Linked DNA regions of Homo sapiens. The protein of the gene in region 1 purifies or fractionates together with the protein of each later gene. This does not show direct contact. Each region holds a gene or a part of one and is shown in the gene's direction. Other genes may lie near its edges.

Region 1 (3,500 bases):
AAGGGCAACTTGGGAATCTGTATTACAAAAAAAAAAAAATAGGAAAAGGCATAAGCTCCTGTTACCAAGGATTTCCTTTCACCCAGACAAAATGGAGTTATAACTTTGTCTAAATGCTGAATGGATATCCCTTTTCTTAGTCTCTTGATTTCATACTTTTAAATACTATACTTGAATTTTGGAGTTGTTTGATAAAATGTTTCCTGGATATGAGGCCGGGCATTGTGGCTCACGCCTGTAATGCTAGCACTTTGGGAGGCCAAGGCGGGTAGATCACCTGAGGTCAGGAGTTTGAGACCAGCCTGGCCAACATGGCAAAACCCCGTCTATACTAAAAATGCAAAAATGAGCTGGTTGTGGTGGCACATGTCTGTAATCCCAGCTACTCAGGAGACTGAGGCAGGAGAATGTCTTGAACCCAGGAGGCGGAGGTTGCAGCAAGCCAAGATCGCGCCATTGCTCTCCAGCCTGGATGACAGTGATAGTCCGTCTCAAAAAAAAAAAAAAAAATGTTTCCTGGATAGGTAACGGTTGATCTTTTGGAGGAACTGGCTTTTTTTTTTTTTTTTCTTGAGATGGAGTCTTGCTCTTTAACCCAGGCTGGAGTGCAGTGGCACGATCTCAGTTCACTGCACCCACCACCTCCTGAGTAGCCAGGATGACAGACTCACACCACAATATGCCCACCTTTTTGTATTTTTGGTAGAGACGGGTTTTGCCATGTTGCTGAGACTGATCTTGAACTCCTGAGCTCAAGCAGTCTTCCCACTTCAGCCTCCCAAAGTACTGGGATTACAGACGTGAGCCCCCATGTTTCAGTCTTGATACTACCAAAAGGAAATTTTAGATTACCCTTTAGATAATGTTCCACGTAATCTAGGAATTTAGCCTAAAAGATATAATTACAGGAATTTTAATTTAAGGTTATTTGTGGCTGGGCACGGTGGCTCACACTTGTAATCCCAGCACTTTGGGAGGCTGAGGCGGGTGGATCACTTGAGGTCAGGAGTTTGAGACCCGTCTGACCAACATAGTGAAACCCCGTCTCTACTAAAAATACAAAAATCAGCCGAGTGTGGTGGTGCACACCTGTAATCCCAGCTACTCAGGAGGCTGAGGCAGGAGAATCATTTGAAGCCAGGAGGCAGAGGTTGCAGTGAGGGAAGATCACGCCACTGCACTCCAGCCTGGGCAACAGAGTGAAACTCTGTCTCAAAAAATAAAAATAAAGAATAGTAATTTGTATACCAGTATCACTCTTTGGGAACTGAATATTTAAATCAAAAACTTATGTGCAGCTCTTCTTTTTGCCCTTTTTTTGTGTGTGACTCAAGGCTATTCTGTTCTTCAATATAGAACTAACTTAGAAAAAAGCCTTCCAACATTTTAGTTATCTTTCTTGGGCGCAACTATAAGGAGTGGACCTTTGCTCCATGGAATGTTCTTCTTTGCATTCTCCTGGTTTGTTTTCCTAGACCCTCTGTTTTCATTTCCTCTACACAGATTGGTGAGGAAATGAGCCAGAACAGTTTCATAAAACAGTATCTGGAAAAGCAGCAGGAGCTACTTAGGCAGCGTCTGGAACGTGAAGCTCGAGAAGCTGCAGAACTTGAAGGTAAGCCCAGATTGTCACTTTTAACAAGGAGTTCGTCATTCTTATCCCTGTCACCAAGTAGATAGGCCTGTCTAACTAGACAATTTCAGAAATAAGTGAGGCTGAGACTGCTACTTACTTGCTTTCATAGCCCATGAAGCCAAGTGGTTTACTATTTACTTTTGTCAGGGAAGAGGACACTTAATTTGACTGTCTTGTTAGAAGAGGATTCCTGCCAACAGGAAGAGTTATAAGTAAATTAAGCTACCATTTAGATGAAGTAGAGCTGAATCCCAGGGAGTTTTTTCTTTTTATACGGTGCTCTTTTTGGTATGTATCTCTGTATCTGTGACTTTGCCTGACCTCCTTCACTCCTCTACATATTCCTACATGCTGAGTCCTTCACTCCCTCCCTGCCCCGACCCGATCTGTACTTTGCAGAAGCTTCAGCTGAGTCGGAGGACGAGATGATCCATCCTGAGGGAGTGGCTTCCCTGCTGCCTCCTGACTTTCAGAGCAGCCTGGAGAGACCAGAGCTGGAGCTCAGCAGACATTCGCCCAGTACGTATCTCCCTCCCCACTGCGCTGTTTTGTCAATCCTGCGTAGTTGGTGGGGGGAGGTAGTTACACCTCCTTTCATGCTAAGCCTCCATGAAAGTCCCAGGGAAATTCTGTGACATTGATATTTGACATCTGTTTCTCATGGAAAGTATACCCTTTTTGAAGTCTGCTTTCACCTATATATTGTGTTACCTTCTCAGTGTTTTACGAAGCAGTGTGATTTTTCTTCTCATCTGTACCTCTTCAACTCTTCTACCTCTGAATTTGGCAACAGTCAGCTCTTTTTCATCTCTTCACCAGTTGTGTATATTACGTGTTAACACATTCAGTCACCCTCTGGAGTTGGGTATCTGCTGTGGTTTAATCAACAAATTTTTATTGTGTACTTGTTGTATACCAGGCACATGCTAGGCACGAGGAATATAGTAAAGAAAGAAACAAGTCTCAGCCCCAAGAAACTTAGTCTAGTGAGGACATGGACATTAGTTACAGTTGTTTTGGCTACTGTGCAAGGCAACGCAGAGTATTATGTGAGCATATTATAGTAGGGAGCTCTAACCTAGTATATGGGATTGGTTCAGGCAAGATTAATTAATTTCTTCACATTATAGAAAATATTAAGCACCCAGACTGGGTGTGGTCGCTCACGCCTCTAATCCCAGCACTTTGGGAGGCTGAGGCAGGAGGATCACCTGAGGTCAGGAGTTCCAGACCAGCCTGGAAAAACCGTGAAAAAGCCATGGCAAAACCCTGTCTCTACTAAAAATATAAAAATTAGCTGGGTATGGTGGCAGGCACCTGTAATCCCAGTGACTCGGGAGGCTAAGGCAGGAGAATCGCTTGAACCCGGGAGGCAGAGGTTGCAGTGAGCCAAGATTGCACCATTGCACTTCAGCCTGGACAATAGAGCGAGACTGTGTCTCAAAAAATACATAAAATCATAATAGGCACCCAATTTTGCATAATATCTCAAGCAAAAGTCTATAAATATAGCCTTTGTCTTTTGGGAACTACCTGTCTAAGTCAGTATACTTTGAGGAAAATATGTGCAGGTTGAGCATGCCTAATCCAAAGACCCAAAACTTTTTGAGTATTCACATGACACTCAAAGGAAATGCTCATCAGAGCATTTCAGATTTTGGGTTTTCAGATTAGGGATGCTGAATCAGAAAGTATAATGCAAATATTCAAAAATCCAAAATCTAAAACACTTGTGATCCCAAGCATTTTGGAAAAGGGATACTTAATATGTATATAAGACATGTGGATTGTTAGTACATATGTTAAACCAATGTGTAACTTAACAAGTATTTTGAATAATTAGTGTTGAGGGGGATGCGGAATC
Region 2 (3,500 bases), on another chromosome or scaffold:
TGTCCAAAATATAAGTAGATCATGGTAAGAAGCATTATTAGTGGTGAATATCTAAAATAGGAAAAAGGTAAAACATCTGACAGTCAGTACAACATATGATTATTGTAATTAATTGGATTTTTTTATTAATGGTATGATAAAATATTAATGAATTTCGATAACTTTTCATGTCAAGTGGAAGGAATGAAGGCCAGCTGAATGGTGAAACAAATACACCCATTGAAGGAAACCAGGCGGGTGATGCAGCTGCCTCTGCCAGGAGTCTACCAAATGAAGAAATAGTGCAGAAGATAGAGGAAGTACTTTCTGGGGTCTTAGATACAGAACTACGATATAAGCCAGGTAAGTTGGAGATAATTAACTGTCTCAAAAATTTTCTTTTAAGATTTTTTTGAAATTTGAAGGTTAATGTTAGTTTTTGACTTCAGTATTTAAGATATTTATTAAATTAAAAACTTTAGGCTGGGTGCGATGGCTCACGCCTGTAATCCCAGCACTTTGGGAGGCTGAGGTGGGTGGATCACCTGAGGTCAGGAGTTCCAGACCAACCTGGTCAACATGGAGAAACCCCCATCTCTACTGAAAATACAAAAATTAGCCGGGTGTGGTGGTGGGTGCCTGTAATCCCAGCTACTTGGGAAGCTGAGGCAGGAGAATCGCATGAACCCAGGAGGCGAATGTTGCAGTGCGCTGAGATTGCGCCATTGCACTCCAGCCTGGGCGACAAGAATGAAACTCCATCTCAAAAAAAAATTTTTTTTTCAGTAAATTTAAGCTTTTGTTTAATTGATTTAATGAAGACTTTCTTGTTTAAATTTTCCTTCCATACTTCCACTGGAAAACAAACATTGATGTACTTGTTTACTCTGCTGGTAGAATATAATTTTTATTTTTGACTTAGTTTCAGTTTATTTGATTCAGTTTCTTTTTCTTTTCTTTTCTTTTTTCTTTTTTTTGAGACAGTTTCACTCTTTTTGCCCAGCCTGGAGTGCAATGGCGTGATCTCGGCTCACCGCAACCTCCGCCTCCCAGGTTCAAGTGATTCTCCTGCCTCAGCCTCCCAAGTAGCTGGGATTACAGGCGCCTGCCACCATGCCCGGCTAATTTTTTTTTGTATTTTTAGTAGAAACGGGGTTTCACCGTGTTGGCCAGGGTGGTCTGGTCTCGATCTCTTGACCTCATGATCCGCACACCTTGGCCTCCCAAAGTGCTGGGATTACAGGCGTGAGCCACCGCGCCCGGCTTGATTAAGTTTCTTAGTATCAGGAATTTGAGTATGGATTTTTATTAAACAGTTGTGTAAAAATACCCATCCCACTTAAACTGCAGTGGATGGAGAGGAATCATTGCTTGAATATTTAGCGTTTTTGGAATTGATTAATTGATGTTTAGAAATGAAGGATTTAGCCACAAAAATAACAGTCATTACCTTGATTTAGTTCTGGAATCAAGTTTGTAATATGGTTGGTTTGTCCTCTTTTTTGGGGGGAACTTTAGCTGTGCTTAGATTCATGACTCTCAAACAGACTTGCTTAGATTCATGGCTCTAACAACCTTCATTGAAGTATGACTTATCTAACATTTTGTATTATGAAACAAACAATTAATAGAAAATGGTAAGTTTTGCTTTGGCCTATGTCAAGTGTTGATTTATTTTCTTCTGTAGTCTTTTTTTTTTTTTTTTTTTTTTTTTTTGAGACGGAGTCTCGCTCTGACGCCCAGGCTGGAGTGCAGTGGGGTGATCTCAGCTGACTGCAAGCTCCGCCTCCCGGGTTCACGCCATTGTCCTGCCTCAGCCTCCGGAGTAGCTGGGACTACAGGCGCACACCACCACGCCCGGCTAATTTTTTGTATTTTTTTTTTTTTTAGTAGAGACGGGGTTTTACCGTGTTAGCCAGGATGGTCTTGATCTCCTGGCCTCGTGATCCACACGTCTTGGCCTCCCAAAGTGCTGGGATTACAGGCGTGAGCCACAGTGCCCGGCCTTTTTTCTGTAGTCTTAATGGCTCAGATTTCTGATGAGCTTTTTTGGGGGTCCCTAAGATTTATCTAATTTGATATTGGCATTAGAGTAAATAAATCCCATCTGGTTGTTAAAGTTGAATACTCCCATCTCTTTAGGGTATGTAAATTCAAACCTTCTTAAGTTGTAAATTAAGGACTAAGAATTTCCTCTCTAAAATCAGTATTCTTTTCTAAAATAGAAACATTTGAAAAGTTATTTATTAGTGGTTTTAGAATAGTATTGGGGGAAAATGTTATCTCTTTAGGGTATGTAAATTCAAACTTTCTTAAGTTATAAGGACTAAGAATTTCCTCTCTAAAATCAGTATCCTTTTCTAAAACAGAAACATTTAAAAAGTTATTTTAGTGGTTTCAGAATAGTATTGGGGGAAAATATTATTTTTATTAGAATGTAACGTAGGCATGATAAGGTAAAATTTGAGTTCTCTATGAATATTTTATATTTGTTATTCAGATATTTTTATACTCTGTAGAAGCAATCACTAACCTTTGTTGAAAGCTTATTCTGTGCCAGGCATTATTTGATGTACTTTGCATGTTTTAACTCACTTTATCCTCTAACTCTAGAAGACACAAGTGTGTCAGTAATTTGGCCAAGACCATTAACCTAGTAAGTGATGAACTGATTGAGGATTCAAAAGTGGCAGTCTGTTCCAGAGCCAGTGCCATGTTGCTTCCTGTATAAACAAGGGTTAATAATCGCAAAAATTATATTATGTGGGTATTTTTAATAGAAACTGTAGCAACTAATAACATGAAATATATTCAGTGACAAAAGTAGTTTAAAAGTAATTTTGCTATGATTTGAGAGCTGGAGGGAATAATTATTTTAATAGAATTTAGTGAAACATGTCTTAATGTAATTCAAAGTAAGTTTTGGTGTTTAATAATTTATTTTTAACCCAGGCATTAGTTGTGGAAAGAATTATCAGAAAAGTAGTAGTCTCCAGGTTAACTGTTTTATGAAAAATAGTTTATTTGGTAACTTTTAATTTAACGTGAGGTGTTATACTGTGGGGTTTTTTTTTTTTTTTGAGACAGAGTCTTGCTCTGTTGCCTAGGCTGGAGTACAGTGGTGCAATTTCAGCTCACTGAAACCTCGACCTACTGGGTTCAAGTGATCCGCCTCAGCCTCCCAAATAGCTGGGACTACAGGTGCGCGTCACCATGCCTGGCTAATTTTTGTATTTTTAGTAGAGATGGGGTTTCACCATGCTGGCCAGGCTGGTTTTGAACTCCTGACCTCATGATCCACCTGCCTTGGCCTCTCAGAGTGCTAAGATTACAGGCGTGAGCCACTGTACTTGGCCTGTACTAAGGTGTTTTAACATGGAATGTAAATATGGGTTTATATGATTTAATCTAACTCTACTTTGGGGAATGTCTGACAAAATTAATTTCTATTACTTTTAGACTTGAAAGAGGGCTCCAGAAAAAGTAGATGCGTATCTGTACAAACAGATCCTACTGATGAA
Region 3 (3,500 bases), on another chromosome or scaffold:
CCTGTGGAGACCTGGCGACCTGCCAAGGGCTCCGGACCTGCCTGGGTGGACCCAGGGTGGGCGTGCTTCTGGCTGCAGGGCCGGGCCACAGGCTTCCCTCTGGCTTTCTGCCCTCAGGCCTTTAGCATTGACATGCACACGACCCTGCCTCCTTTCTAAGGACTGTGTAGAATTACGTGGCATTCAGTGAGCAGCTGCACGTGGTGTTCTAGGGCACCTTTGGATGCTCAGGTGCTCCTGAGGGGTGTGCCAGGGAACGAGTCTCCTACCCTTCCCTCCTGGCTCCTGTTGCTGCATCCAGGCAACTACTGTTTCCAGTGCTGAAGTCTCTTTCCAGGATGTTCTAGACATATCCAAACTCGCACAGAGTTTTTGAATGGTGGTTTCTTAAGAGAAGGGGCAGCCGTGCGCTGTCTCAGGATGGTTCTGTCAGGGAGGCCATGGCTCTGGTTTGTACAGTGCTTGGTGCCCGTAGAGTGCCTGGCAGCTCGGCCTCAACAGCTCCAGTGGGTGGGCAGTTGCAGGCTTTTGCTCTTACAGTTGACCTGACAGTAACATGCTGTTTCTCACATGTGCACACCATTCTTGGGGAAAATTCCAAGAGAATTTCTAGGTCAAAGGATAAATGCTTTTTTTTGTTTGAGACAGGGTCTCACTCTGTCACTCAGGCTGGAGGGCAGTGGTGCGATGTTGGCTCACCAAAATCTCAACTTCCTGGGCTCAAGGGATCCTCCTACCTCAGCCTCCCTGGTAGCTGGGACTACAGGGTCCCCGCCACCATGCCTGGCTAGTTTTGTTTTGTTTTGTTTTGTTTTGTTTTTTGAGACAGAGTCTCGCTCTGTCGCCCAGGCTGGAGTACGGTGGTGCAATCTCGGCTCACTGCAACCTCCACCTCCTGGGTTCAAGTGATTCTCCCGCCTCAGCCTCCTGAGTAGCCGGGATTACAGGCGCCCGTCATCACGCCCGGCTAATGTCTGTATTTTTAGGAGAGACGGGTTTCACCATGTTGGCTGAGCTGGTCTCGAACTCCTGACCTCAGGTAATCCACCTGTCTTGGCCTCCTGAAGTGCTGGGATGACAGGCGTGAGCCGCCGCACCTGGCCATCAATGCATTTAATTGTGAAGGTGCTTGGAGCGTCCCTCCGCTAGGCGGTGATGCCATGCACTACTGCAGCCGCCCCTCAGCTGCTTTCCCACCACCAGCCTCCCTCATGGTGTTGCTGCTTCATCTTTTCCTCTTGTTTAGTGATGTTTTTCTTTCATTAAGAATGAGGCTCGCACAGCTGGGCTTAACTGAAAAAATAAAAATAAAAAGAATGAGTCACAGGCTGGGCCCAGTGGCTCACACCTGTAATCCCAGCACTTTGGGAGGCCAAGGCAGGTGGATCTCTTGAGCCCAGGAGTTCAAGACCAGCCTGTGCCATATAATGAGACCCCATTTTTACAGAAAATTTAAAAAATGAGCCAGGCATGGCGGTGCGTGCCCGTGGTCCCAGTCCCGGAAGCCCTTCTGTCTCTTCCCTGTGGCGGCATCATCCATGCACTTAGCTGGCTGGAAACCCTCATGGCTGTTGCCCAAGGGCAGGACAGCTAGCTGGTTCTTGTCATTTTGGTCTGAGCTCCCTGGGCCAGGAGCCCTTTGCTGTTTTCTCTCTGTTTGTTTGTTTTGTTATCTGGCACCACAACAAACTGCCCCAAACCATGGAGCCTTTCTTTTTTTTTTTTTTTTTTTTTTTTGAGATGGAGTTTTTTTGCTCTTATCGCCCAGGCTGGAGTGCAGTGGCACAATCTCGGCTCACTGCAACTTCTGCCTCCTGGGTTCAAGCGATTCTCGTGCCTCAACCTCCTGAGTAGCTGGGATTACAGATGCCAGCCACCACGCTCGGGTAATTTTTTTTTTTTTTGTATTTTTAGTAGAGAGGGAGTGTCACCATGTTGGCCAGGCTGGTCTTGAACTCCTGACCTCAGGTAATCCACCTGCCTTGGCCTCCCAAAGTGCTGGGATTACAGGCGTGAGCCACCGCACCTGGCCACCATAGTGCCTTTCAACAACGAGCATTTGCTGTCTGTGTTTCTGGGGTCAGGAGTCCTGGTGTTTTGTGAGGTGCACTCAAGGAGCAGGGTCTGGCTGTGCCCTTTGCAGCTCCTCCCCTGACTGTTGGCATGAGGAGCTCAGGAGTGAAGGTGAAGAAGGGTACTCTGTGTCTGGGGGGTGGTCAGAGGATAGGGATGAGGACAGGGACAGGGCCCAAGAAGATGGGGTGGGTGCTGTACCTCCCCCTTCCTTCCCTGGGGTATCTGTGGGCCACGGCAGGGCCCACAGCTGTTGCTAGTAGCCTCCTTGGGGCCAGTGGGTTTGATTTATTTTTGTGTTTGTGTGGTTTGAGGGCAGGCATCCCTTCCCCACCCTTTGCGTCCCTGCTACAGTGACCCCTCTTTCTGGGTCCACCTGCTCTGGCACGAGCTTGGTGGGCCAGCCTCACCCCAGGGCCCACCCCATCTCCAGCCTCCCTGCCTTGGGCCTGGCAGTCCTGCCTCTTAATTGCGTTCTGTGCCACCTGATGACCCACGAGTTCTGTCTCCTGGCCTGGTTCCTACTCCCTGGGACTTTCTGCAGCCCCTGCCCTTCCAGCTGTTGACTGTGTCTGCGAGCCATCCCACTGGAGGGGCGCCCTGGGCTGTGTGCTCCCTGCCCTGCAGCACCCCTGACACGGGTGCTCCCAGCCCTCCACTGACCAGCCAGGGAGGAAGCTGCCTCCTGCCGGCCTGTGCCTCGCTTCCTGTCCCCTCTCCAGCAGCACACGGCAGCGCGGGCCGCGGGCTCACCGGAGCGAGGACTGGTTGCAGGGCCTTCTCTTTATCGCTGGTGTCTAGTGGATCTGTGGGGTCCGTGCGCTCAGAGCTGTTTTTTCCTTTCTGTGCTCATTTAGATTCATTTTTTTCCCAGCTTTGCTTGGTTTTGTCTTTTCATTTATGTGAGTTTTTCTTTTTATTATTTTGTGCAGAAGTTTCTGTTTTTATCAGTTAATCTGCTTGTCACAGTCAAGAATGTGAGAAAAGACTGGATGCGGTGAGCCAAACCTGTAATCCCAGCACTTTGGGAGGCCAAGGTGGGCGGATCACTTGAGGAGTTCGAGACCAGCCCGGCCAACATGGTGAAACCTCATGTGAATTGCTTGAGCCTGGGAGGCGGAAGTTAGAGTAAGCTGAGATCATGCCACTGCCTCCATCCTGGGTGACAGAGTGAGTGGGACTCTGTCTTGAAAGAAAAAAGCACTAGTAAGAGAAGGCCTAAGACCTAGTATTAAAGTAAGAGAAGGCCTAAGACCTGGTATTAAAGTGAGAGAAGGCCAAAGACCTGGTATGAAAGTGAGGGAAGGCCGAAGACCTGGTATTAAACTGAGGGAAGGCCGAAGACCTGGTATTAAACTGAGGGAAGGCCAAAGACCTGGTATGAAAGTGAGAGAAGGCCGAAGACCTGGTATTAAACTGAGAGAAGG
Region 4 (3,358 bases), on another chromosome or scaffold:
AAGACATGCCTATCATTTGAGAAATTATAAGGATTTAGAGGTTCCCTTTCTGGGCAAAGGAAAAAACCTCAGTTTAGGTAAAGCTAAATTCCTTACTACACACTGTGCTACTTACCCTTCAAAAATGCCAAAATATGTTACACTTTGTTGAACCGTTTTGCTGCTAGTGGTGCTAGTCTTAGTGATGAATCATGCTTTCCTGATTCCTCTTTTAAATTGTCTGGCCAAGGTGATGTTACATGTAGAACCAAAGAAGTTTTCATCATGAGAAATTGACTTGGATGGGCAGGACACCAAATTACTACTTTGGTAGCAGCATGCTTTACAAACTAGAGCAAATAGCTCAAATATATTTTAATGATATGAGTAAATGTTTTCAGTCCTATAATATTTTTAACTTATCAAATCAGTATTTATACTGTCTTATCCATGGAATACCTGCTGCTGTGAACTTTCTGAGTATACTTTAATCCCTTTTGCTTCCTTGATGCATCTCTAAATCCATTGACCTGTTCCCAAAATTTCCTTTCAGCTTCTTCACTTTGCCCCTCAAAAGCAACAGGGACCAAGAGAAAGAATGGTGGATGTTGAAAGACAGAAATTTAGAATGTGAGAAACCCTAGCCTTCATGGCCATTACTGGCCATAACTGGCTTCAGGAGAAATTTTCTAGTCTATGTGAAGACTGGTGAACCCTGTGTAGTGTTGTTTTTGGGGACAGTCAGGAAGGTTTTGGGTATAATGGTTGAGGTTAGGTATAACTTAGATATACTTAAATTCTAAGGGATCTCATTTATCATAAATATTTCCTTGATGTTTGAATAGTTCCATGACTATCATCTTTTTGAAAAAAAAGAAATATTTCTGTTATTATGCACTTGGAACAATGTTACTGAGATTTCTTTTAACCTTATTGTGTTTGATATACTGAAAGCTTCAGAAATAAATAAATATAATTTTATTACTTAAGGCAGTTGTTTTTATTGTGTAATACCAAAGTTAGCAACAATTTATTTACTTAATTAGAAGAATGAAAATGAAAAATAGATAGTATGATGGGAATACATTGTTTCAATCAGTAATTGAATTCATAATAAGCCAGGTAATGATACACCATATTTATGTAATTTTTAGATTATATTTCCTATATCAGAGAAGAAGCATAATTATACTAGATAATAAAATAAATGTGAGTTTGTAGCTTCAGAAAACAAAGTAGTTTTTTTATTACTGATGCCTGGACTATCGCAGCATTCTTTCATTGGCTGGTATCATGATATTGTCATCTCACCTAATTATCAATTATGGACCAATCTTTGAATTGATTTAAGGAAGTTCAAGCCTTACTTTATTTATATATATATCTCTCTCTATGAAACAGATCCCAGGTTTTTTGTTGTTATTTTTTTGTTTGCTTATTTGTTTATTTGAGATAGGTTCTCACTCTGTTGCCCAGGCTGAAGTGCAGTGGTGCAGTCATAGCTCACTGCAGCCTTGAACTCCTAGGCAACAGGGATCCTCTCACCTCAGCCTCTCGAGTAGCTGGGACCACAGATGCAAGCCACTGTGCCCAGCTATTTTTTTTTTTATTATTTTTTGTAGAGATGAGGCCTTGCCTTGTTGCCCAGGGTGGCCTCGAACTCCTGGCCTCAAGTGATCCTCCTGCCTCGGCCTCCCAAAGTGCTGGGATTTTACAGATGTGAGCCATCACACCCAGCCCATATCCCAGTTTTAAACATGGAAATTTGACAGATAGATAATATAATTAGTCAGTAGTTTCTGGACATAGGACCAAATCTCAAAATCCATACTTCTGGAACTCTGTTCACTGAACTAATAAAAATATACAACACTGCCCCACAGTCCCAGCATGTTACTACAAGCATAGGAGATTAATTAGACTCAAAGCCTAGATGTCAACTATTACTCTATAAACTACATGAGATTTTTCAAGACCTTGTATCCTGTAAAAGTCAGCTCCCAGAAGTTATATCTGTGACACAATGAAAAAATAATTTAGATTCTGGTTAAACAGAAACAAGGCAAGTTAATTATTTGTTACTTTTGCAACAAGTCCAATATGATTCTTTCCTATAGTATTTAATAATTAGTTTTGGCCTTCTCTGAGAGCTGAATAGATTGCATTAGAATTTTAGTGGCATTCACTACCAGGAAACTATTTGGTCATGTGAAACAAACAGTGCCCTCAAACTTGACTGATTTTCACTTAAAATAATGTATATGAAATTCTAGTATATTTAGCTAATAAGTGTAAGTAATTTCTTAAATAGCTTTCTGCAAACCGTTTCCTATTTTTCCTTCAAATTCACTCTCACTACAGGAAAAGCCATTTAAATAGATTTATTAGTTTAGAGGTACTAATGACTGAAAGTAAAAATGCTTTTGTATAGAGAAAACGGTTGTTTGTTTGTTTTACTGTTTGTTCATAATATCTTTATGTTACTAGTGTTTCACATCTTCCCTAAGTCATACCCATATTGTTCTACTGGAGTCCCCAAATTTTACTTTGGCTAAATCTGATGTCAGAGAAGTTCAAGAAAGCCAAATATCAGTTGAAGTATATTTTACCAGTCCAGAATTAAACACAACTCTGTGACTATGTAGAACAAGTAGATTTCATAAGCCTTTAACCATCTAATCTTCTGCAGGTTTGTTTTCTTTGATATGTGTTCTGCCTAATGCTTTTCTCTCTCTCTCTCTCTCTCTCTCTCTCTCTCTCTCTCTCTCTCTCTCTCTCTCCCCCTCTCCCTCTCTCCCCCTGCCCCCTCTTCCCCCCATGTCTCATTCTCTCTCTGCTTTCTATTCCTGCTCTTTGGGGCTGGCTTTTTCCCATTAGCTTTCTCCAAGCCCTACACCTGCCAGTCAGAGTCCCAAGAAACCTCCAGCAAAGGACCCATTAGCGGATCTTAACATCAAGGATTTCTTGTAAACAATTTAAGGTATCTAATATTGAGCTTTTCCTGTAGGCTTGTAATAATGAGCTATACAATGCTTAGCTATTTCAGAGGTACTCATTATTTCTGCGTTTTGAATAGCTGTGTATAATAGTAATAATTTGAGTGTTTATACTTTTAAATTTGATATTAAAAGCTCTCTTTAAGAGTTTTTTAAATCTTAATTTATGTAACTAGGAGGGAAAGTAACCTCCAAATTGTCCTTATCCTGGAAAGCACAACGATTAGCTTTAATAAAGCAAAAAGGTGCCCAAGCTACTTGGTAAATTAGAAAATTACCACTTTATTACATGATGACTTGAATTTATAGAAAGCTAACATTTATACTATTGCATTTAGAAATCATCTAAGAATATATTTGACTGCATAATTGTATTTTTATTT
Region 5 (3,500 bases), on another chromosome or scaffold:
TGTGGAATGGAAATTTGGGATTATTTGGGGTTAGTCTTGGCTGTCAGTCCAAACAGTTACTCTGAAGCTGTTTTTAGCCTTGACCCTGGGGTTCTGTGTGCCACACTCACCACACATGTGCAACAGTGCCAGGGAACCTTGGGATGTGACCTGGCTCTGCTGGGAAGTGTCTAGTGAGCCGCACAGCTGACTCAGACAGGTGCATCTGGGGAGGCTGTGGTTGCTGTGTCTGTCCTCGAGTGCCTGCCCTCTTTTGAAAGTAAGGACATCCTTCATCACCCCAGGGCCCAGCTTAGCCTTGGAAAACAACTAGATCTGTGGTCTGTGCTCATTCTCTTCGGGGGCTAGCACATTAGAACAATAAGCTCCATTTTCTCCTTCCATCTTACATTGAGACTGAGACTTCCCAGGAGAGCCTTGGACCTCTAGTGGCTTTCCCTATAAACTTGGGGGCAGCACATTGCTGTGTGGAAGATGCCTCCTCTCTGAGGACTCCACTCATGAGCCCTTCCTCCTCCTGCCAGCATTTTCTGGACTCCACCATAAGCTTCCCGCTTCTGTCCCCCTTGGTTCCTTAATGTGGCTGAGCATAGCCAAGTACTCAGCTCTGTCTCGGGATCCTCAGGAATTCCATCAGCCTCGTGGGGTTCCTTTTTCCCTGCTCCTGGAGGCAAATTATATGCAGCAAAACGTAGAACTAGTCTTGTGGATTTTCTTTGGTGGAGGAGCATACACCAATGGTTCCATGTAAAGGCTCCAGAATCAGAACTGGCGTCACACCTTGGTGTCACCCCTTCCTGCTGAGCCTGTCTCCCCAGGAGTGAAATGAGGGTAATATTCCTCCTACAAAGGGTGCGGTGGTGGGGGTTTACATGAGGTGGGCGCATCTGTACAAACGTGTTTATCATTGCCAGCTACTTTTTTTTTTTTTTAATAGAGACGGGATCTCACTATGTTGCCCAGGCCAGTTTTGAACTCCTGAGCTCAAGTGATCCTCCTACCTCGGCCTCCCAAAGTGCTAGGATTACAGATGTGAGCCAGCACACCTGGCCACCAGCTGCTTTCATGAAGGTGTTAGATATGCTCTCCTAACAGTGGAACGCGGTTTGATCCCTTCTCCTCACATACACAGTCATAAATGAGTCGTCAGAGTTACCCCAAAGGGAAATGGTAACATCTCCCTACAGAGAAAACTAGCACAGAACTTATGGGCCTCATTGAACAGTTACGTGGGTTGGTTGGACAGAAAAATGTTGGTTCAATTTTCAAATACTAAGGAGAGCTTATTTCAGGAGTCCCTTTTCTTACTTTGTTGAGGGGAGGCATCAGAGCACATGCTGGGAGGATAGGCCAGGAAGCAGGCAGTGGTAACGTGGGACATCGTGCACGTGGTGGAGCATGCCGCCATCTCTCCCTTCACCCTGGCAGAGCTCTCCGTTGAACGGGGAGGTGAACTTGGACATGGACAACAACCAGCCTGTGTCAAGGGGGTTTCCTTACCAGGACTCCTTTCTAGTTTCCTTTCACCTACAATGTGGTCATGGGGCAAAAACCCCAGAGACCACATATGTATTGGTGGAAAGAGAAAAAACAGGACTGTGGAGCCAAAGCTACCTCACTAGCTTTTGTGAAAGTCAGGCTGGAAAGTGCTTCCAGCCACAGAAATAGGCTGTGGGTGTAAATATTAACCTTGGCCATCAAATAAGTAGGCATAGAGTGTGACTCGCCCTCTCTTGGTCTTCCCTGAAACAGCAGGGTCAAGAACTCCTGGTCTGTGTTAGCCACGTGGCTTACAAAAACAATGACACAGAAGAGGGAAAGGTGGGACTAGCCAAGTGGAAGGCCAGCCGTTTATCTCTCAGTGTCCTGTGTCTTATATCCTGAGCAGAGCAAGGTGCAAGACCCTGGACTGGGCATCCAGCAGAAACTTCCGAGAAACTTGACTGTGAGGAAGGATGCTTGCCTAGCAATTGGTCGGATGAAGGGCTCCATTTGATACTTCCTTCACTGTGGAAGGAAGAAATTTGTAAAAATTATTTCCAGAATATGCACACATTAAAGGTTTATAAACCTGACCTTTCTTTAGTAGAAGACAGTAAGAGAATACTGTTGGCTCTGGGAACTAACCATTTGAGCTGTGGGACCCAGGGAATCTCTCTTGTAAGCATCATCTTTAGTGGGTGACTCCTGGTGGCCCTCCCAGCTCTGGTGGTGCTGTGGGGACCTGCCTTGGAGATGCCTTGGTACTAGTACCTTTTTTGTACCAGGCCATGAGCCTAGGGCACAGGGCCTCTGGCCTGCAGATTTCAGGAAGGCAGCTGTGTTGTGTGAACCGATACAGCCTGCCAGCACTTCTGTCCCGAGTGACTGTCGTTGTCATCGTTAGCATGTTGCCTGAAAAGCCTTGGGGTCTGGGCGCTGACACTGAAGCTTTTTTTTCCCTTCTGGCTCTGTGATGTCCAGCATTACCCAGAACGCCATGGAGGACCAGAGCGCCACGGCCGGGACTCCCGCGATGGCTGGGGGGGCTATGGCTCTGACAAGAGGATGAGCGAGGGCCGGGGGCTGCCTCCTCCCCCCAGGTTTGTGTCCCACACCCGACAGTACCTGACCCCCCCCCCGCCCACAAGGGGGCCCGCAAGTCGCTGGGATGTGGGCACAGGGTGGGAAACACAGAGGGATTCACTCTCCAGAAGCCGCCACAGTTATTAGCACAAGAGCCAGAGATGGGGGCAATCCAAATCAGAGATGTCTCTCTTTCAAGGGGCAGACGTGACTGGGGGGACCATGGCCGAAGAGAGGATGACCGGTCATGGCAGGGCACGGCCGACGGGGGCATGATGGACAGGGATCACAAGAGGTGGCAAGGTGAGGAGCAGCTCTGGGCTGGGACCAGGATGTGCTGGGGAGTGATGGAAAGATGGAGGCCGCGCCTTCTCTCCTTGGGGGAGCACAGGAGGTGCTCTGCTCTCAGTGCTGGAATGAGGAATGAAGAGCACTCCAGACACCGCCTGCTCTCTGGTGGTCTGGCCCAGGAGTTGGACAGTGGGCGTTCCCGAGTTCTCTCTGCTGGGAGGAAGCTGGACGTCTATGGTCCCTGTGCCCAGGTGTCTTCCTGGGACCCGCTAGTTGTGGGTACCTGGGGGCCTCACCAAAGGGAGTGGAGTGGGCTAAATGTGCCGTGGGTTCCACGCCGTGTGCGCAAGTTCCCTGTGTGAAAGCACGTCTGTCTTCCAGGTGGCGAGAGAAGCATGTCCGGTCACTCCGGGCCTGGCCACATGATGAACCGAGGAGGAATGTCAGGGTAAGGCATGCTGGGGGCGGCGCCCCTTCCCCCTGCTTTGCATATTGGCCTACCTTGCTGGAGGCTTAACAACCAAGTCCTTCCAGCTAGTGCCCCTCCCCCCAAGGGTGACGTGAGGCCAGGCATGGGGTACTGTGGAGGCTGCTGCCACTCAGGAGGGGAGGGCATTAGGAAGGGGCCCTGCCTGCAGGCAACA
Region 6 (3,500 bases), on another chromosome or scaffold:
GAAATTCCTTAGCTTTGTCACTAGAAGCAACAATTTCTGTAGGACACACAAAGGTGAAATCCAAAGGATAGGGCTGGGCGCGGTGGCTCACACCTGTAATCCCAGCACTTTGGGAGGCTGAGGTGGGTGGATCACCTGAGTTCAGGAGTTCAAGACCAGCCTCACCAACATGGTGAAATCCCATCTCTACTAAAAATACAAAAATTAGCCAGGCGTCGTGGCAGGCGCCTGTAATTCCAGGTACTCAGGAGGCTGAGGCAGGAGAATTGGCTTGAACCCAGGAGGGGGAGGTTGCAGTGAGCCGAGATCGTGCCACTGCACTCCAGCCTGGGTGACACAGCAAGACTCCGTCTCGGAAAAAAAAAAAAAAAGAAAGAAATCCAAAGGATAGAAGAAAAGCACCAAATATTTCCCCTCAAAGTCATCAAGGCTTAGGTCTTTGAACTCTCCATTGACCACGGCTGTACCCTTAAAATAGGGCGCATGCTGGGTGACATCAGGTGCATGGTATGAGGAACTGGTACCAGAATTTTGCTTGACCGGAACCAGACCACAATATGTTTGTCAAACTTGTTCTTCCAGAAGCAGCAGGCCTGAGGGCTGCAGTGGCAGAAATGCCCCCAAGGAATGGCACTCACATGCCGGGCAACTGATGCTCAGAGTAACCTTCCCACAGCAGCCGCGATCTTCAGTGCATGTGTGTTTTTGTTTTTTTGAGACAGTGTCTGTCTCTTTCGCCCAGGCTAAAGTACAGTGGCACAATCTCAGCTCAATTTAGCCTCAGCCTCCCAGGCTCACGCCATCCTCCCACCTCAGCCTCCTGAGTAGCCAGGACTTCAGGCGTGCACCACCATGCCCGGCTAATTTTTGTAATTTTTTGGATAGAAATGGGGTTTCGCCATGTTGCCCACGCTGGTCTTGAACTCCTGGGCTCAAGCGATCCTCCTGCCTCGACTTCCCAAAGTGCTAGGATTACAGGTGTGGTGGCACCTTGTCTCTAAAAAAAATCAATCAATTAAATAAGAAAAGAAAATAGCTCTTCTCCCCCTCTGATTATAACAACACATTACCAAAGTTACTGGTGCTTACATGGGGTTGAATGGAGTTATGATGGATATTTCATTTAATGTTGTTCTTCAATGTTTTAATTTTTTACAACAGACTTAAAAATTTTTTAAATACATGTGGCCAGGCACGATGGCTCACGCCTGTAATCCCGCACTTTGGGAGGCCAAGGTGGGTGGATCATCTGAGGTCAGGAGTTCAAGACCAGCGGGACCAACATGGAGAAACCCCATCTCTACTAAAAATACAAAATAAGCCGGGCGTGGTGGCACATGCCTGTAATCCTAGCTACTCCAGAGGCTGAGGCAGGAGAATCACTTGAACCTGGGAGGTAGAGGTTGTGGTGAGCCGAGATTGCGCCATGGCACTCCAGCCTGGGCAATAAGAACAAAACTCTGCTTCAAAAAAAAAAAAAAAAAAACATGTAATCGGCTGTACGCAGTGGCTCACGCCTGTAATCCCAGGACTTCGGGAGGCTGAGGCAGGTGGATTACTTGAGATTAGGAGTTTGGGACCAGCCTGGCCAACATGGTGAAACCCCGTCTCTACTAAAAATACAAAATTTGGGCTGGGCACAGTGGCTCACGCCTATAATTCCAGCACTTTGGGAGGCCAAGGCGGGGTGGATCACTGAGATCAGGAGTTCGAGACCAGCCTGGCCAAACTGGTGAAACCTCGTCTCTACTAAAAATACAAAAATTAGCTGGGTGTGGTGGTGGGTGCCTGTAATCCCAGCTACTCGAGAGGCTGAGGCAGGAGAATCACTTGAACCCAGGAGGCAGAGGTTGCATGAGCCGAGATCGCACCATTGCACTCTAGCCTGGGTGACAGAACGAGACTCCATTTCAAAAAAACAAAAACAAAACAAAACTTAGCAGGGCATGGTGATGCACACCTGTAATCTCAGCTACTCGGAAGGCTGAGGCACAAGAATTGCTTCAACCCGGGAGGTGGAGGTTGCAGTGAGCTGAGATCATGCCTGTGCGCTCCAGCCTGGCGACAGAGTGAGACTCCGTCTCAAAAAACAGAAAAATACATGTAATGCTCCTTGTTAAACATCTTAGATAATATAGGAAGATAAAACGAAACAAGTAATGATTATCTATAATACCATTTTCCGAGGTTACCATTGTTAATATGGGATATATTTTCTTCCCCACATTTTTCTCACATATTTTTTGTGTATGCATTTTTTTTCCAAAAAAAAAAAAAATGGATGATAGGCTGTTTTTCTTCCTTTTTTTTTTTTTTTTTTTTGGTTGGGGGGTGGAGTTTCACTACTCTTTCTCCCAGGCTGGAGTGCTGAGTGCAATGGCATGATCTTGGCTCACCGCAACCTCCACCTCCTAGGTTCAAGCAATTCTCCTGCCTCAGCCTCCCAAGTAGCTGGGATTACAGTCGCACACCACCATGCCTGGCTAATTTTTGTATTTTTTTTTTTTTTTTTGGTGGCGACGGGGTTTCACCATGTTGGCCAGGCTGGTCTCGAACTCCTGACCTCAAGTGATCCACCCACCTTGGCCTCCGAAAGTGCCAAAGTACTGGGATTACAGGCGTGAGCCACCGCGCCCAGGCTTTTTTTTTTTTTTTTTTTTTGAGACAGTCTGGCTCTGTTGCCCAGGCTGGAGTGCAGTGGCTCGATCTTGGCTCACCACAACCTCCACCTCGCGGGTTCAAGCGATTCTCCTGCCTCAGCCTCCTGAGTAGCTGGGATTACAGGTGCCCATCACTGTGCCTGGCTAATTTTTGTATTTTTAGTAGAGACGGGGTTTTGCCATGTTGGCCAGGCTGGTTTGGAACTCCTGATCTCAGGTAATCCGCCCGCCCCGGCCTCCCACAGTGTTGGGATTACAGATGTGAGCCACCACACCTGGCCGTCTGTTTTTCATTCTGCTTGTTTTACTTGGCAATGGGGAACATCTTTCTATTCAATAGATTGATCTCTGAAAACATCACTTTTGATGGCTTCATACTGTTCTATCATGAATATACCACATATTTAGTTCACTACTATTGAACATTCGGGTTCTGTTTTTGTTGTTTTTAAAATGTTATGAAGGATACAGTAGAGAATATTTGTGTAATTAATCTGTGGGTGCATCCATTATTCTGTTCTTGGGATACATTTTGAGAAGTGGAATTGTTGGGCAATTCCTCTTAACGTATTTCTAGAGTGTTTGATAAATATTGTCTGATTGGCCCAGGAAAATGTTTGCCATTTCTCATATGTAGTATTTGACTGACTTTCAGGACAGGAAGATGTCACCCAAGCGCATAGCTAAAAGAAGGTCCCCCCCAGCAGATGCCATCCCCAAAAGCAAGAAGGTGAAGGGTAAGTTGGCCTTGGCCTCTTTGTGGGTACAGGTGGCCCCTTGAAACCCTAAGAACCCGGGACTGGGCTCCTTTCTTCCTGAGGCTTGAAGCTGAAGGGTGTG
Region 7 (3,500 bases), on another chromosome or scaffold:
TTTTGCTCAGTTTGTCATACATTTCTTTGCTTTATGACACTTCATGCTACATAGAGACTTGAATTTTGTACACGTATTGAATTAACCACTTTTATGATGTCCAGGTTTTGCATCATACCCTGCCCAGTGTTGGTTTAAATAATTTAATCCATGTATTTTACTATTTTGTTTTTGTTTTAAACATTTAACCAAGCTGGAATTTTACTGGGGAGGGATCATAAGCTTTGAGGTAGGGATTTCTGGTTTTCATTTTATAAAAATGATTTTTTGCCTTTCTTAGGCTTAGTTTGTAATTTTTTGGAATGTTTCATAAAATATATATACATATATATAAATACAAAAATATAAATAAGTAATATATTTGCAGGATGTAATGTTTTACCATGGTTTGTTCAAATCAGAATTAGTGATGTGTTAGGTGTCGTCATCTTGCTGAGATCATAGTTGGCAGTTGGCTTGTAGTTATACTACGCCATCTACATGTGCCTGTTGCAAAAAAATACTTAAGCTAGGTTGATACTGTTCAGTACATGGGGTTTTTGGTATATTTTATTAAGCAGTCACAGTTGAAAAGCTGAACTGTTACTTACTCCAAGGATGTTTTTGCTACTTTAGACATCTTTAGGTAATCTGCTTCTTGTTTAATTTGATTAATTTAGACTAGTGTTTCTTAAACTTTAGCAATCATCAGAATCACTTGAAAACTTGTTAGAGCAGATTGCTATGCCTCACCTTCAAAATTTCTGATTAAGTAGATCTGAGATGAGACTCAAGTTTTGTAGTTCTTACTAGTTCCAAGGTGATGCTAATAAATTTTTAAGAGCATCTCTGCCCTAAAACAGTTGGAAAACACTGTAGATAGTAAGGCACCCAGTAAAGTGTGGAGTTTGGCTATCCTGTGGCACTTTTATTAATTCATCATTGAAACTTCAAACTTAAAATTTTACTATTGTGACTCATTCCTTAGCCTGGATAAATATTTCATTACTACTAAGAAAGTTAGTAAAACTTGACTCTTACATAAAGGAAAATGGACTGTAGTTTTTATCTCCAGTGCCTGATTCTGCCTTTCCTGAGTTCTGTGTCAAGTTAGTTTTTTGTTGTTAAGCAAAGGGTTTCATACATTTAACAGTATAGCAAATCGTCAAGTACTGTTTCTTTTTTTTTTTTTTTTTTTTTAGTGGCTTAAAATTGACAAATTCATTCTCTCACAATTCTGAAGGTCAGAAGTTCAAAAACAGTATGTTGGCAGGTTAGTTCCAACTGGAGGCTCTAAGTGGCAATAGTCTTTCATGATTCTCTCCTAGCTTTTGGTGGTGGCTAACAGTCCTTAGCATTCCTTGGCTTGTAGCTTTGTAACCACAGTCTCTGCCTTCATCTTCACGTGGCTTTCCTTTTGTGTTCAAATCTCCCTCTCTTTACATTTTGTAAGGATACTGGTCATTGGATTTAGGGCCCACTCTTAAATTCAGGGCGATCTTGTCTGAAATTTATAACTTAATTACTTCTGCAAAGACCCTATTTCTGAGTAATGTCACGTTGATAGGTACCAGAGGTTAGGACCTGGGCATATCTTTCGAATAGCTTTTTGCTATGAAATTTGTACGTACAATGGGTTCCTTTATCTGGGACTTTGTGAAGAGTGTGTTAATGTAGGAGAGACTTAGGACTGGGAATCAGTACAGTGATACCTAGTCTTAGTAACTGGTTTTGAGAGTCTGGAAAAGTTGACTACGGTTTTTTTCGTTTTCTTCACTGGAAAAGAAGTAAATTTGACTATATCCTTGAGACCTTTGAAATTTTGAAATTTCATTTTTCTTGAAATTATTCATTGTACAAACAGCAGTATCCCATATTAACTGGTGATGCAAGAAGTAATTAAGTGCAGCACCTCATGGAATGGGATCACTGGGTGATGATCAGTATTGAGGAACCATTGGGAATTGTCTGGATGATAGAAGTTTTGGCCATTTAACTAAGTACTTGCAATATGCATAGTTAATAAAGCACAATAAAATATTTCCATTAATCTAATTTATAATATTTATAGTCTGCCATCTGTAACATTTCTTCCCTTAGAAAAATAAAAAGGAATGTCTGTTGGTTAGCTCTGCTCCATATTGTGATTGATTAAAGCTTGAGGAATGTGAGGAGAAAAAAGATCAAAATAAAGAAGGTGACTTTTAAAACTAGTTTTAAGAAGTTTTCAACTTAAAGTCATATTTTATCATTTCTGTGACTTTTTTCTCAAGTTTTTATTGTCTGAAGTTACAATGTGTCTCACAATCTACTGAGGTCTTGTAGTTGGTGGCAGTTTGGTTATTATTGCCTGTGAATGCTTGAACTCGATCTAGCTGTACATATTTTCACCTCAAATAATGTGAATTGTTGGGTCTGTATATACTGAGAGTATTTGCTAATTTAAATGCCTTCAGAAATATTAAATATTACACTATGATTCCATGTTGAAATGAGCACTGAGTATCAAGAGGCTGGGAAATGGAGCAATAGGGTGTAAATATGCTAGTATTTGAGCAAATGTTGGAAGAGTAACCAATCCTTTTTTTTTTTTTTTGCCTTGCAAATCAACAGACCGCTCTATTGAAGCTAAGAGAGGTAACTCACAAATAGAGGAAGCTGTATGTTATGTTCTGCTACTGAGATCATGTACAAGAGTATTGCCTCTCTCGTGTCTGTGATATATCGGAAGACAGGAAAAATTACCAAACGTCCTCAGATCAAAGAAATTTCAAAGCAGCTAAGGGCTATAGTGTTGCTGATTCTTGCACTATGCTTTACTGTCTTTAAGGCACTGAGTCATAATTTAATTGGCAGTGTTTTTTCTTTCCTGGTCTTACATAAAATAACCTTATAGCTAATGCTGTTTGTCCCTCCCAGGAATGTGGTAGTTTATTTTTAAAAATATGACCAAGGACAAGAAGCATAAAGCATATAAATGAGTTAAGATGGATTTGTTTGCCAATAGTTTATGAAATTTAGAATTAAGTTTAGGTGAAATAAAGAGAATTCACTTCTTTTTGTTGTACACTATCAATTTGCTGAACTTAATGCTCCAGCAGATGGCATGAGCTAAAAATATCCAGTTGGTCCATGAAAGATTAGGTTAGACTAATCATAAAAAGAGCCAAAATGGTGAATTCATAAATGATGGCTTCAGATTTTTTAATACCACTTTTAAATCCGTAAATAAAATAATGGGTTTTTATCTAACTGGATGAGCTGTGACTTAAGCATCTAAAGGCATCCTGTGTTTTGTCCAGGTGCCAAAAGGAAGATAGTTGTTTTTCATAGTGACATCAGTAACCAGTGTGGAATGGACAGGAGATAGCTGACCCCTGCAAAGTTATACAATCTTGACCCTTGATCTCATTGCCTTCATTCTTACGTGGCGCCTGTCTTGTGATAACTGGAGTCCATATTAGCAGCCTTCACTTGAGCCATCCCTAACTAAGCCTGGTTTCCCTTTTTGGTTCATTGAT

Evidence for each region.
Region 2: the proteins of ACIN1 (region 1) and SON fractionate together in Homo sapiens (co-fractionation; one large-scale study listed by BioGRID). This does not show direct contact.
Region 3: the proteins of ACIN1 (region 1) and BOP1 fractionate together in Homo sapiens (co-fractionation; one large-scale study listed by BioGRID). This does not show direct contact.
Region 4: the proteins of ACIN1 (region 1) and SNAP91 fractionate together in Homo sapiens (co-fractionation; one large-scale study listed by BioGRID). This does not show direct contact.
Region 5: the proteins of ACIN1 (region 1) and SAFB fractionate together in Homo sapiens (co-fractionation; 2 studies listed by BioGRID). This does not show direct contact.
Region 6: the proteins of ACIN1 (region 1) and RCC1 fractionate together in Homo sapiens (co-fractionation; one large-scale study listed by BioGRID). This does not show direct contact.
Region 7: the proteins of ACIN1 (region 1) and DHX15 fractionate together in Homo sapiens (co-fractionation; one large-scale study listed by BioGRID). This does not show direct contact.

The regions. Positions count from the first base shown.
Region 1 is NC_000014.9:23,088,637-23,092,136, reverse strand, and holds part of ACIN1 (apoptotic chromatin condensation inducer in the nucleus), read left to right. Parts: intron 1-1,503; coding exon 1,504-1,615; intron 1,616-2,035; coding exon 2,036-2,155; intron 2,156-3,500.
Region 2 is NC_000021.9:33,546,038-33,549,537, forward strand, and holds part of SON (protein SON), read left to right. Parts: intron 1-175; coding exon 176-342; intron 343-3,438; coding exon 3,439-3,500. UniProt on the Homo sapiens protein: RNA-binding protein that acts as a mRNA splicing cofactor by promoting efficient splicing of transcripts that possess weak splice sites.
Region 3 is NC_000008.11:144,281,439-144,284,938, reverse strand, and holds part of BOP1 (ribosome biogenesis protein BOP1), read left to right. Parts: intron 1-3,500. UniProt on the Homo sapiens protein: Component of the PeBoW complex, which is required for maturation of 28S and 5.8S ribosomal RNAs and formation of the 60S ribosome.
Region 4 is NC_000006.12:83,555,744-83,559,101, reverse strand, and holds part of SNAP91 (clathrin coat assembly protein AP180), read left to right. Parts: intron 1-2,856; coding exon 2,857-2,949; 3' UTR 2,950-2,959; intron 2,960-3,358. UniProt on the Homo sapiens protein: Adaptins are components of the adapter complexes which link clathrin to receptors in coated vesicles. Clathrin-associated protein complexes are believed to interact with the cytoplasmic tails of membrane proteins, leading to their selection and concentration.
Region 5 is NC_000019.10:5,664,583-5,668,082, forward strand, and holds part of SAFB (scaffold attachment factor B1), read left to right. Parts: intron 1-2,463; coding exon 2,464-2,582; intron 2,583-2,764; coding exon 2,765-2,868; intron 2,869-3,237; coding exon 3,238-3,304; intron 3,305-3,500. UniProt on the Homo sapiens protein: Binds to scaffold/matrix attachment region (S/MAR) DNA and forms a molecular assembly point to allow the formation of a 'transcriptosomal' complex (consisting of SR proteins and RNA polymerase II) coupling transcription and RNA processing.
Region 6 is NC_000001.11:28,526,543-28,530,042, forward strand, and holds part of RCC1 (regulator of chromosome condensation), read left to right. Parts: exon of another isoform or gene 1-71; intron 72-391; exon of another isoform or gene 392-696; intron 697-3,315; 5' UTR 3,316-3,324; coding exon 3,325-3,397; intron 3,398-3,500. UniProt on the Homo sapiens protein: Guanine-nucleotide releasing factor that promotes the exchange of Ran-bound GDP by GTP, and thereby plays an important role in RAN-mediated functions in nuclear import and mitosis.
Region 7 is NC_000004.12:24,557,055-24,560,554, reverse strand, and holds part of DHX15 (ATP-dependent RNA helicase DHX15), read left to right. Parts: intron 1-3,500.